3 linked regions of the Homo sapiens genome follow. The protein of the gene in region 1 purifies or fractionates together with the protein of each later gene. This does not show direct contact. Each region holds a gene or a part of one and is shown in the gene's direction. Other genes may lie near its edges. The genes, in order: S1PR2, CSNK1G3 and FKBP14.

Evidence for each region.
Region 2: the proteins of S1PR2 (region 1) and CSNK1G3 purify together in Homo sapiens (affinity purification with mass spectrometry; 2 studies listed by BioGRID and IntAct, with this or other methods). This does not show direct contact.
Region 3: the proteins of S1PR2 (region 1) and FKBP14 purify together in Homo sapiens (affinity purification with mass spectrometry; 2 studies listed by BioGRID and IntAct, with this or other methods). This does not show direct contact.

What each region holds. Positions count from the first base shown.
Region 1 is NC_000019.10:10,229,767-10,233,516, reverse strand, and holds the start of S1PR2 (sphingosine 1-phosphate receptor 2), read left to right. Parts: upstream 1-2,185; 5' UTR 2,186-2,313; intron 2,314-3,031; exon of another isoform or gene 3,032-3,104; intron 3,105-3,750. UniProt on the Homo sapiens protein: Receptor for the lysosphingolipid sphingosine 1-phosphate (S1P). S1P is a bioactive lysophospholipid that elicits diverse physiological effects on most types of cells and tissues.
Region 2 is NC_000005.10:123,515,177-123,518,926, forward strand, and holds part of CSNK1G3 (casein kinase I isoform gamma-3), read left to right. Parts: intron 1-3,750. UniProt on the Homo sapiens protein: Serine/threonine-protein kinase. Casein kinases are operationally defined by their preferential utilization of acidic proteins such as caseins as substrates. It can phosphorylate a large number of proteins. Participates in Wnt signaling.
Region 3 is NC_000007.14:30,013,090-30,016,839, reverse strand, and holds part of FKBP14 (peptidyl-prolyl cis-trans isomerase FKBP14 precursor), read left to right. Parts: intron 1-1,946; coding exon 1,947-2,105; 3' UTR 2,106-3,750. UniProt on the Homo sapiens protein: PPIase which accelerates the folding of proteins during protein synthesis. Has a preference for substrates containing 4-hydroxylproline modifications, including type III collagen. May also target type VI and type X collagens.

The sequences.
Region 1 (3,750 bases):
ATTACAGGCGCCCGCCACCACGCCCGGCTAATTTTTTGTATTTTTAGTAAAGAAAGGGTTTTGCCATATTGGCCAGACTGGTCTCGAACTCCTGACCTCAAGTGATCCACCCACCTTGGAGTCCTAGAGTGCTGGGATTACAGGCGTGAGCCACCATGCCCAGCCAATTTTTATATTTTTTGTAGAGATGGAGTTACACCATGTTGCCCAGGCTAATCTAGAACTCCTAGGGTCAAGCAATCCACCCACCTTGGCTTCCCAAACTGTTGGGATTACAGTCGTGAGCCACCGTGCCTGGCCAGATTATGTTTATAACATATAATGTCTACATTTTCACAAATGGTACCCTCATAAAAAGCCATATTTCCCACCTGAACATAAGATCCACTGGGTTGGCCAGGCACGGTTGTTCATGCCTGTAATCCCAGCACTTTGGGAGGCCAAGGCGGGCAGATCATGAGGTCAGGAGATCGAAACCATCCTGGCCAACATGGTGAAACCTCCATCTCTACTAAAACTACAAAAATTAGCTGGGCATGGTGGCGCATGCCTGTAATCCCAGCTACTCAGGAGGCTGAGGCAGAAGAATCGCTTGAACCCGGGAGGCAGAGGTTGCAGTGAGCCGAGATAGTGCCACTACATTCCAGCCTGGCGACAGAGCTAGACTCTGTCTCAAAAAAAAAAAAAAATCCATCTGGTCAAGGAGTTTTTCCTTTTTGTTGCTGTTGTTGTTGTTCACTGCTGTGCCCAGTAGGTGCATAAAAAATATTTGTTGCCAGGTGCTGTGGTTTACATTTGTAATCCCAGCACTTGGGGAGGCCGAGGCAGGCGGATCACTTGAGGTCACGAGTTCGAGACCAGCCTGGCCAACATGGTGAAACCCTGTCTTTACTAAAAATACAAAAAAATCAGCCAGGCGTGGTGGCACGCGCCTGTATTTCCAGCTACTTGTGAAGCTGAGGCACAGGAATAGCTTGAACCTGGGAGGCAGAGGTTGCAGTGAGCTGAGATGGCACCACTGCACCCCAGCCTGGGAGATAAAGGAAGACTCTGTCTCAAACAAAAAAATTTTGTTGCTGGAATGAGGGGCTTTCCTATCCTGTTGTCGAACTGCTGGTTACACACACACACACACACACACACACACACACACACACACACATCATTCGATGAAGGTGTAGTGTCCATCATTTCCGCAGGCAGGCACACAGAAATGCCCAGGAATTAGTGAAAATTGGAAATCTGGATAGAAGACTGGGCCCGACGCTGGAAGGCAGGCACAAACTGGGCCCCGCCAGAGGGGACAGTGATCTACAGAGGCAGGAAAGAGTGTGGAGTGTCCCCAGTCCCCCAAGGGAAACAGGGCAGCACCTGAATTCTGGAGGTCCTATCAAGGGAGAGACTGGTCAGGCACAGTGGCTCACGCCTGTCATTCCAGCACTTTGGGAGGCTGAGGCAGTAGGATTGCTTGAATGCAGCAGTTCAAGACCAGCCTGGGCAACACAGCGAGACCCCATCTCTACAAAAAACTGCAAAAAATTAGCCAGGCATGATGGCGCACCTGTAGTCCCAGCTACTCTGGAGGCTGAGGCAGGAGGCTGAGGCTCCCGTGAGCTATGATTGAGCCACCACACTCTGGCCTGGATGACAGAGCAAGACCATGTCTCAAAAAAAGAAAAAAAAAAAGAGATCAATTTTGTCTTTGGGACAGGACATCGCACTTAGTAGGAATTTATTTGTTGGGTGGACACACAGTAGGCACTTAATGCCTATTTGCTGCGTTGACACCTAGTAGGTACTTCCAAGGCTCTTTGTTGAGTCAATAAATGTGACCTCGTGTTTTCTTCCAAGTCCAGGGTCCCAGGGGTAAGCCCAGAGGTAACCTGGGGTTGAAGACAGTTGTTTCAGGTTGAGGCCACCTGGCCAGGAGTACTGTGACGTCACCAGGCTGCGTGACGTTTCGCGCCGGCCGGTTCTCACGGGTGGGGGCTGGGAGGGGCAGAGTGAGAGATCGGGTGGGGGGGGCGGACAAAGGGCCCTCCGTGCAGCTCCTGTCGGCCCCCGCGTGCGCCCCGGCCAGCCGGCCGGTCACATCTGGAATTCATTGCAGCCGCCGCCGGAAAGGGGAGGAGAGGAGGGCGGGGCGAGCGGGGGGCAGAGGCGGCGGCTCTCCGCCCCCCCCTCTGTCCCTCGTCCCAGCCCCGGGACTTAGCCGAGCCCGGCTGGCAACCCCAGCCCCAGCCGCGGCCGCCCTGGGGACGCAGACGCCAAGGCCCCTCCGGCCAGGGCCGGGAGCCGGGCCGGCCTAGCCAGGTGAGCGCGCGTGGCGACAAGGAGGCAGAAAAGGCGGGCCTGGTCCCCTGAGGTCTCGGGATCCGAGCTGAGGGGCCCCAATCGGGGGGCTGGGGCGCGCACGCGCCGCCTGGGTTCCTGCTGCACGGAGCGGGTGGTCACAGTGCGCCCTCTCCAAGAATCCGGGCGGCCCCCACTGCCTCGGCCGCGAACCCGCAGACTGTGCTCCCCGCCTTTCTCAGCGGCAGGAAGTTGGCGCCGGGGAGAAGGCTGAATCCGAGCGCTTTCGACTGGAGTCTTTGGGAGGCAGGACGCCGTGCTCGGGGACCGGGGTCTTGGGGAGTGTGTTTGGGGGGGGGCAACACCCCTCCTGGCTGACTCCGGCTGAGCGAGGGCAAAAGGATGTGCGCGCCGTGGAGCCTCCAAGCCAAGGGGCGGCACCCACGGGGAGGGCGGTCGGACGTCGGGCTTTCTGCCTCGGTTTCCCCAAGTTGTTTGCCTCCTCCGGTCCCCCGGCGGGGGGCGTGGCTTTGTTTTGTAAGGAAAGAGAAAGTGACTGCGTGGCTCAGACGCCTCCTCTTTCAACTCCGGCTCAGGGATGGGTCGTGGGTGAAGGCGCGCGTGGCGCGGACCTCGCGTGGCCCCGAGCCGGGCGGAGCGTCGGAACTCGCCCCCTTCTCAGGCACGGGTTGACTCACCCGGGGATTTCCACCCCCTCCTCTGTCTCTGTCCTTGTCAGATGCTCCGGGCCCCACGCGCTGAGCCCACAGTCCCCCTCGTGGGGCGACACGGCCAGGCGCGGAACTCGCGGTGCAGCTGCTGCTGCGATCTGGTCCCCCACCCCCAGTCTTCCCAGAATCTCGAGGCGGGACCCCTGGCGGGACGGAGAGGAATCCTTCCAGTGCCGCTTGGAGACGTGGGGGCCCCGCGCGTGTGGCGGTCTCGGGGGCGGGGGGGAGAGGAGGCGTGGCTCCCGCGCGAGCGAGCGTGGATACCGCGCATTCCTAAACCAGATAAGGAGGCCGAGAGTGCGGGCCAGCACGGGGTCGGGTCCTGCTGCCATCTCCATGGAGACACGCTGGGCTTTGCCTGGTTGATGGTGGGCGATGGGGGCGCTGCCCGCGGACCAGAGGTGTCTCCAGGCTCCTTTGTTGCTGTTTGGGTCTGGGCTGAGCTTAGGAGTTTCCACCCTTGGGAACCCACTAGGGTCTCCTTTGTTCATTGGTTCATTCATTCATTCATTCATTTGCCCATTCCACACGTTTTCTGAGTGTTTTATTTGTGCCAGGCATCCCTGTAGGGGCTGATAACTGACTTGCTCCCTGGCCTTAGGCATTGACTGTCTAGGTGGAAGCCAGACAGAAAAGGAAAGATATCATGATAGTTTCCCATAGTGGCAAGCGCTGTGCAGATAATAAAACGAGATTCTGTGATTAGAAAAGGCTTGGAGATGGCTGC
Region 2 (3,750 bases), on another chromosome or scaffold:
TCTCCAGTTACTTCTCTGTGTCTCCTCTGATCCATCCTGTAATCCTCTCCATGCTGGGAGTAGACTTATTCTGGTATAGTTTATTGTTTCAGATGTTTTTCAGAATGGAACAAGCGGTTGTTTTGTTCCAAAGGGCTTCCCAAAAGGATGTGTCAAATTAAATAGAAGGAATGCTGAAGTATTGAATAACAAAATATAGGTCATTGAATAGTTATATTATTGTTAATAGTGAGATTTGCTGTGGATGAGATGAAATGTAAAGAATGTATATTTTCACAGAAAGTGGTTTTAATGAAGTAATTATAAAAGAATCTGTACGTGAGGAAAATTGATAGTAACAGAGGGATGATAAGATGAGAAATTTTCACAGTTCGGGATTAACGTGTGTGAGGTTTTTAAGTCATCTTAAATATTAGACGACCCTAAAATAATGTAACCCCACACTTAATCATTATCAAAGGAGTGCTTAGAAAAAAAAATCAGTTTATAAATGCAAGTAAAATCATGTTACAGGGAAAATTGTTTGAAGTTTTTTTTTCTTCTCCTAATTATTCCCCTCTTAGCTTCCCTAATTATTCCCCTCTTAGTATTCAAAAAGGACTTATAACTGAATTTGTGTTCCCTTCAACCTCCCAGTAACAACAATACCTCCTATAATTTATTAAGTGCCTACTTTGTATAGAGGCCATAAATGATACTATTACGACAACTCTGAGTTAGGTGGTGTAACCTCATTTTTGAGAGCAGGAAACAGTCTTCTAGAGTTTAAATAATGTGTTGAAGATATATCTTGGAAGTAGCAGAGTGCATATTTGAGTCAGTTTTTTTTTCTGACTTCAAAGTCTTAAGCCACCAATGATCTGTTTTTTCTTATCTTCCATCTTCATCCTTTTTTTGGTCTTTTCTCAAGCGGTTGGCAATTCGTGGTATTAATTGATAGTATGTGTCTGAGTGTTGGTTCTTTATGATGTAATTTCTTCAGAAGCGGTAGTTTTGAGGTATCTGTCTTTAATTGTGGGATCCTGTAGGTGCAGACAGTATGGTTCTGGTAATTTAAGGCACCTCAGAGCATCACCTTTTGCTGATCTGCAGGACAGAACTATGCTTGGATTCTTAATGTGTAGAAATCAAATGTGCTTTAATAATGTGAAATGATTTTCAAGGGCATCTGAACTGCTCAGGAAATATGGAATGGGAGATAAATGTAGAAATATATAACTTCTAGCGACATGGTGGAGGCTGCTGTTAGACATTTTTTCTTTTTTTTAAGCTCTCTCTGAAAGCTGAGATTTAGCAACTATAAATGTTTGGGCTTCCCTTCTATTATGAAACCTAAGGAAAGTATGTGTTTATTTGTTGTTAGACCATAGTGATTGGTTATACTCTCTCCTGCCACTTCGTGCTTATCATCTTAGTTATAAGAAATAACTCTTAACAATGAATTGAAGTGTTTATGTATTGGGGAGATAAGACACACTTTTTTGGTCGCTTTGTTTACCAATGATATATTACATAGTTGTAATTTATTGAAAATTTATGAGTAAGTTATGTCCACATGGCTAAATCATGTCCGCATTTTTCATAACTTTTCAATGGAATGAGAGATGGTCTCATGATACTCTTTTTCTTAAATACAAAGTTTAATGTTTTTTTTCTCTAGGTTAGTAATGTGAGGTTGAAGTTGTATTCAAATTTATTACATTTATTTAGATCACTTTGTGTTACCTGGAAGTACTTTCTTCAGTTGATAGCTACATTTGGAAAAAAAGGGAAGAGAGTTACCCTGTTATTCTGCCATTATATTCTTCATCAAAATGGAGGAAATTCATATGAAGTGCCAAGGACTATGTGATGCCTGCCACATAGTAGGCACTGTGTAAATCTTCTGTCCTTCATTTCAGAAGTTGCCGATAAGAATTTTAGAGGGTGGATTGGTGGGTAGACAAGCAAAGACTCTCGGGAACACCCTATTACAGGAAAATCTCTCATACCTGACCTCTGCTTAACCCACTCGTGAGATTAAATGATAGTCTTCATTCTCTCTGTAGAATTTGCTGACTGATGCTCATGCTACATTGAATGACAGTAGACTATTCTTTAGTTTTATCTTGAACTTTTATTCCCCCCAGTTACTGTAGACTTACCAAGAAACATTTGTGTTTGTACCCAACACACTGTTATGGCACTTGATGTTGTAATCACATAGTTTAATGAATTATTATTCAGTGAACTCTGAAGATAAAAAGGCGTTTGTATGAGAACCAATTGGCTACTTTGAAATCAAGTGAGTAGCCAAAATCAATTATGGTTGAAATAGATGAGGGTTAAATAATTTTAAATGATTAGGGAAAAAAAAACAAAAAACACCTAACGATCTAAAAAAATCTGCAATAATATTATTTTTCACGTTTGTAAAATGTCTTTCTGTGTTTAAGAAACAGAAACTGGAAATCACAGGTGTTGTTTTATGGGGGTAGTTTTTGCAAGAAAAAGGAAATAGAACTTTCTTCGATAGACCCACACTGGAAGAAAAGGCCATAGCTCTGTATTATAAGATTGTCTTGTGAATGGACATTTTTGTTTTAGTTGTAATAAAATGTATAGAGTTTGTAGATGTTGAGAAATGATTTCCTTTTTAGGCTAACTTCAGAACCATTTATTAATTGTAATATATTAAAGAAGTCTGCTTCTAAAACATCATCTTTCCTAGTTTACACTACTGCTTAGAGATTTATTTAATAACATCCTCTTTAAGAAAAAAAAAAAAAAAAAGGAAGATCCTGTTATTCCCAGAGGTTCATTCCTTAGAGTGAATTGTTTATCTAGTCAGGTGATCAATCTATGGTTCTCACATATTTCCCAGTATGGTCCCTAATCTGATTTCATAAGCTACCTTTCAACTTTTATGTACTGTCAGGGTTGAAGGGGTAAGCCTTCTTATAGTTCCAACATCTCCATCCAATTAGGAATGCTGGGGTAGAGGAGATTGTTCTTTGAAGGAGGAAATGTGACACCCTTGATATATACCAGGAGCACTTGAGCCTCCTATCTCACCTAGCTCAGTCCAAATGGAAAGGAGAACTTTCAGTTGAAGGAGCAGGAAGTCCAGGTTGGAGAAGGAGTGGTATATGTGGTATGCTATTTATTTTGGTGTAACCACATTGCTTGCTGAATTACAGTAGATGCTGAAATGGCACATTGAAGTATGAAGGTAGGGTGGGTGGCTCCAAGCTAGTACTTGAGAGCTCTGGTCTGCCCCTCTGTGATTTTCTTGGCTGTTTGTCTTCTGTGTGTTGGAGTCATCCTAAGGCCAGCAGCAAGATCACATCTAGACATGCACTGGCCAGAGGATGGAATGGATCTCTCTCTCTCTTTCTGTCTGTGTCTCTGGAAAAGCAAATACATCTTTTGCATAAGCCTACCAACATATTTTTCTCTTCGTATCTTATTGACCAGAATTAGGTCACATGAACGTCCTAACTAGTTATCATAAGGGAAGTAAGGTTATCATGGTTGGTTTCTACTAATCAGGAGATACCTTCTGCAATTGGTGTTGGGATCACATTTTTCTGAGTTAGATGGAAGAGGGAGGATATTTTAAAAAAATTGTGGGAAGGAAGAATTTGGGGGATATGGATGTTAGAGAGATGATAAATAGTGATCGCTGTGTCTACCTGTTTTGAAGCGATTCTCGTGCTTCAGCGTCCCAAGTAGCTGGGATTACAGGTGCATGCCACTGCACCCAGCTAA
Region 3 (3,750 bases), on another chromosome or scaffold:
GGATTTGAAATTGCTGGTCTAAACAGAAGGAAGAGAGGTGATATAATTAAAACTGAAAATATAGGCTGATTTTCATTGTGGTGAATCTTGTGGGAAATTGAAAACAATATTTATATTTTTAAATATCTGAATGAAATGAAAATGGAGTCCGGGCATGGTGGCTCACACCTGTAATCCCAGCACTTTGGGAGGCCAAGGCAGGCAAATCTTCTGAGGTCAGGAGTTCGAGGCCAGCCTGGCCAACTTGGTGAAACCCTGTCTCTACTAAAAATACAAAAATTAGCCAGGCATGGTGGCAGGTGCCTGTAATCCCAGCTACTAGGGAGTCTGAGGCAGGTGAATCGCTTGAACCTGGGAGTTGGAAGTTGTAGTGGGCCGAGATCGTGCCACTATACTCCAGCCTGCGTGACAGAGCAAGACTCTATTTCAAAAAAAAAAGAAAAACAAAAAAACAAATGAAAATGGAAAATTGTAGTCTAGGCACTTATCAGACCTGACTTTCTGAGATTGAAAGGTTGTGATTAGACTCAATCTAATCACATGATCATAACCAAAACCCAAAAGACCCACTACTTGCAGACATTTATTCAAGTCAAAGATGCCACTATTTAATCTAGTTTTAAGAGAAGTGTCCATGGGGTGCAGTGGCTCATGCTTCTAATCCCAGCACTTTGGGAGGCTGAGGGGTTTAGATTGCTTGAGCCCAGGAGTTCAAGACCAGCCTGGGCAACATGGTGAAACCCCATCTCTACAAAAAATATAAAAGCCAGATGTGGTAGCACATGCCTGTAAGTCCCAGGTACGTGTGAGGCTGAGGTAGGAGGATTGCTTGAGCCTGGGAGGCAGAGGTTGCAGTGAGCTGAGATGGTGCCACTGCACTCCAGCCTGGGTGACAGAGCAAGATTCTGTCTAAAAGGCCGGGCGCGGTGGCTCACGCCTGTAATCCCAGCACTTTGGGAGGCCGAGGCGGGCAGATCACGAGGTCAGGAGATCGAGACCATCCTGGCTAACACGGTGAAACGCCGTCTCTACTAAAAATACAAAAAATTAGCTGGGCGTGGTGGCGGGCGCCTGTAGTCCCAGCTACTCGGGAGGCTGAGGCAGGAGAATGGCGTGAACCCGGGAGGCGGAGCTTGCAGTGAGCCGAGATTGCGCCACTGCACTCCAGCCTGGGCAACAGAGTGAGACTCCGTCTCAAAAAAAAAAAAAAAAAGATTCTGTCTAAAAAAAGAAAAGAAATGCCTAGTATTTAGATTCAGATTAAGAACAAGTAGTATGCTCTCATTGGGTATTCTCCAATAATATAAGCCCTATATGAGGATTGTATACATGACATAAGCTTTATCTCTGCCTTTGAGCAATATATATATAGAGAGAGCTATATATATATATATATTTTTAATTTTTTAATTTTTTATTTTTTTGACAGAGTCTCACTCTGTTGCCCAGGCTGGAGGGCAGCAGCGCAATCTCGATTCACTGCAACCTCTGCCTTCCAGGTTCAAGCGATTCAACTGCCTCAGCCTCCTGAATAGCTGGGATTACAGACGCATGCCATCATGCCTGGCTAACTTTTTTTTGTATTTTTAGTGGAGATGGGCTTTCATTATGTCGGCCAGGCTGATCTCCAACTCCTGACCTCAAGCAATCTTCCCACTTGGGCCTCCCAAAGTGCTGGGATAACAGGCATGAGCCACCACACCTGGCCCTGCCTTTGAGCAATATTTTGTGTCTCCACTTTAGCAGTTTAGCAACAGTTTTTTTAAGGGAAAAAGTTTCTATTATTTTTTAATTATCATTAAAACTATGTCATAAAATGGCTGTTTAGAAGGTATTATATTTAGTTAATGAACTAAATATAATAACAGTCCATGTCTGTGATATTGATTGGCTCAATGTGGGTATCTTATGAATCCAAGTTATTAATGGGATCTGTTATTTTGTAGGTTAAAGCATATTTAAAGAAGGAGTTTGAAAAACATGGTGCGGTGGTGAATGAAAGTCATCATGATGCTTTGGTGGAGGATATTTTTGATAAAGAAGATGAAGACAAAGATGGGTTTATATCTGCCAGAGAATTTACATATAAACACGATGAGTTATAGAGATACATCTACCCTTTTAATATAGCACTCATCTTTCAAGAGAGGGCAGTCATCTTTAAAGAACATTTTATTTTTATACAATGTTCTTTCTTGCTTTGTTTTTTATTTTTATATATTTTTTCTGACTCCTATTTAAAGAACCCCTTAGGTTTCTAAGTACCCATTTCTTTCTGATAAGTTATTGGGAAGAAAAAGCTAATTGGTCTTTGAATAGAAGACTTCTGGACAATTTTTCACTTTCACAGATATGAAGCTTTGTTTTACTTTCTCACTTATAAATTTAAAATGTTGCAACTGGGAATATACCACGACATGAGACCAGGTTATAGCACAAATTAGCACCCTATATTTCTGCTTCCCTCTATTTTCTCCAAGTTAGAGGTCAACATTTGAAAAGCCTTTTGCAATAGCCCAAGGCTTGCTATTTTCATGTTATAATGAAATAGTTTATGTGTAACTGGCTCTGAGTCTCTGCTTGAGGACCAGAGGAAAATGGTTGTTGGACCTGACTTGTTAATGGCTACTGCTTTACTAAGGAGATGTGCAATGCTGAAGTTAGAAACAAGGTTAATAGCCAGGCATGGTGGCTCATGCCTGTAATCCCAGCACTTTGGGAGGCTGAGGCGGGCGGATCACCTGAGGTTGGGAGTTCGAGACCAGCCTGACCAACACGGAGAAACCCTATCTCTACTAAAAATACAAAAGTAGCCGGGCGTGGTGATGCGTGCCTGTAATCCCAGCTACCCAGGAAGGCTGAGGCGGCAGAATCACTTGAACCCGGAGGCGGAGGTTGCGGTAAGCCGAGATCACCTCCAGCCTGGACACTCTGTCTCGAAAAAAAGAAAAGAAACACGGTTAATAACATATAAATATGTATGCATTGAGACATGCTACCTAGGACTTAAGCTGATGAAGCTTGGCTCCTAGTGATTGGTGGCCTATTATGATAAATAGGACAAATCATTTATGTGTGAGTTTCTTTGTAATAAAATGTATCAATATGTTATAGATGAGGTAGAAAGTTATATTTATATTCAATATTTACTTCTTAAGGCTAGCGGAATATCCTTCCTGGTTCTTTAATGGGTAGTCTATAGTATATTATACTACAATAACATTGTATCATAAGATAAAGTAGTAAACCAGTCTACATTTTCCCATTTCTGTCTCATCAAAAACTGAAGTTAGCTGGGTGTGGTGGCTCATGCCTGTAATCCCAGCACTTTGGGGGCCAAGGAGGGTGGATCACTTGAGATCAGGAGTTCAAGACCAGCCTGGCCAACATGGTGAAACCTTGTCTCTACTAAAAATACAAAAATTAGCCAGGCGTGGTGGTGCACACCTGTAGTCCCAGCTACTCGGGAGGCTGAGACAGGAGATTTGCTTGAACCCGGGAGGCGGAGGTTGCAGTGAGCCAAGATTGTGCCACTGCACTCCAGCCTGGGTGACAGAGCAAGACTCCATCTCAAAAAAAAAAAAAGAAGCAGACCTACAGCAGCTACTATTGAATAAATACCTATCCTGGATTTTAAAAAAGAAAAAAATATATATAATTTTATTTTAAATTGGCTTTTATCTTTAATTCTTTTTTTTAAAGTTATCAAATCTTCATTTTCTAAGAGTAGCCCTTTATAGTGTACAAAAT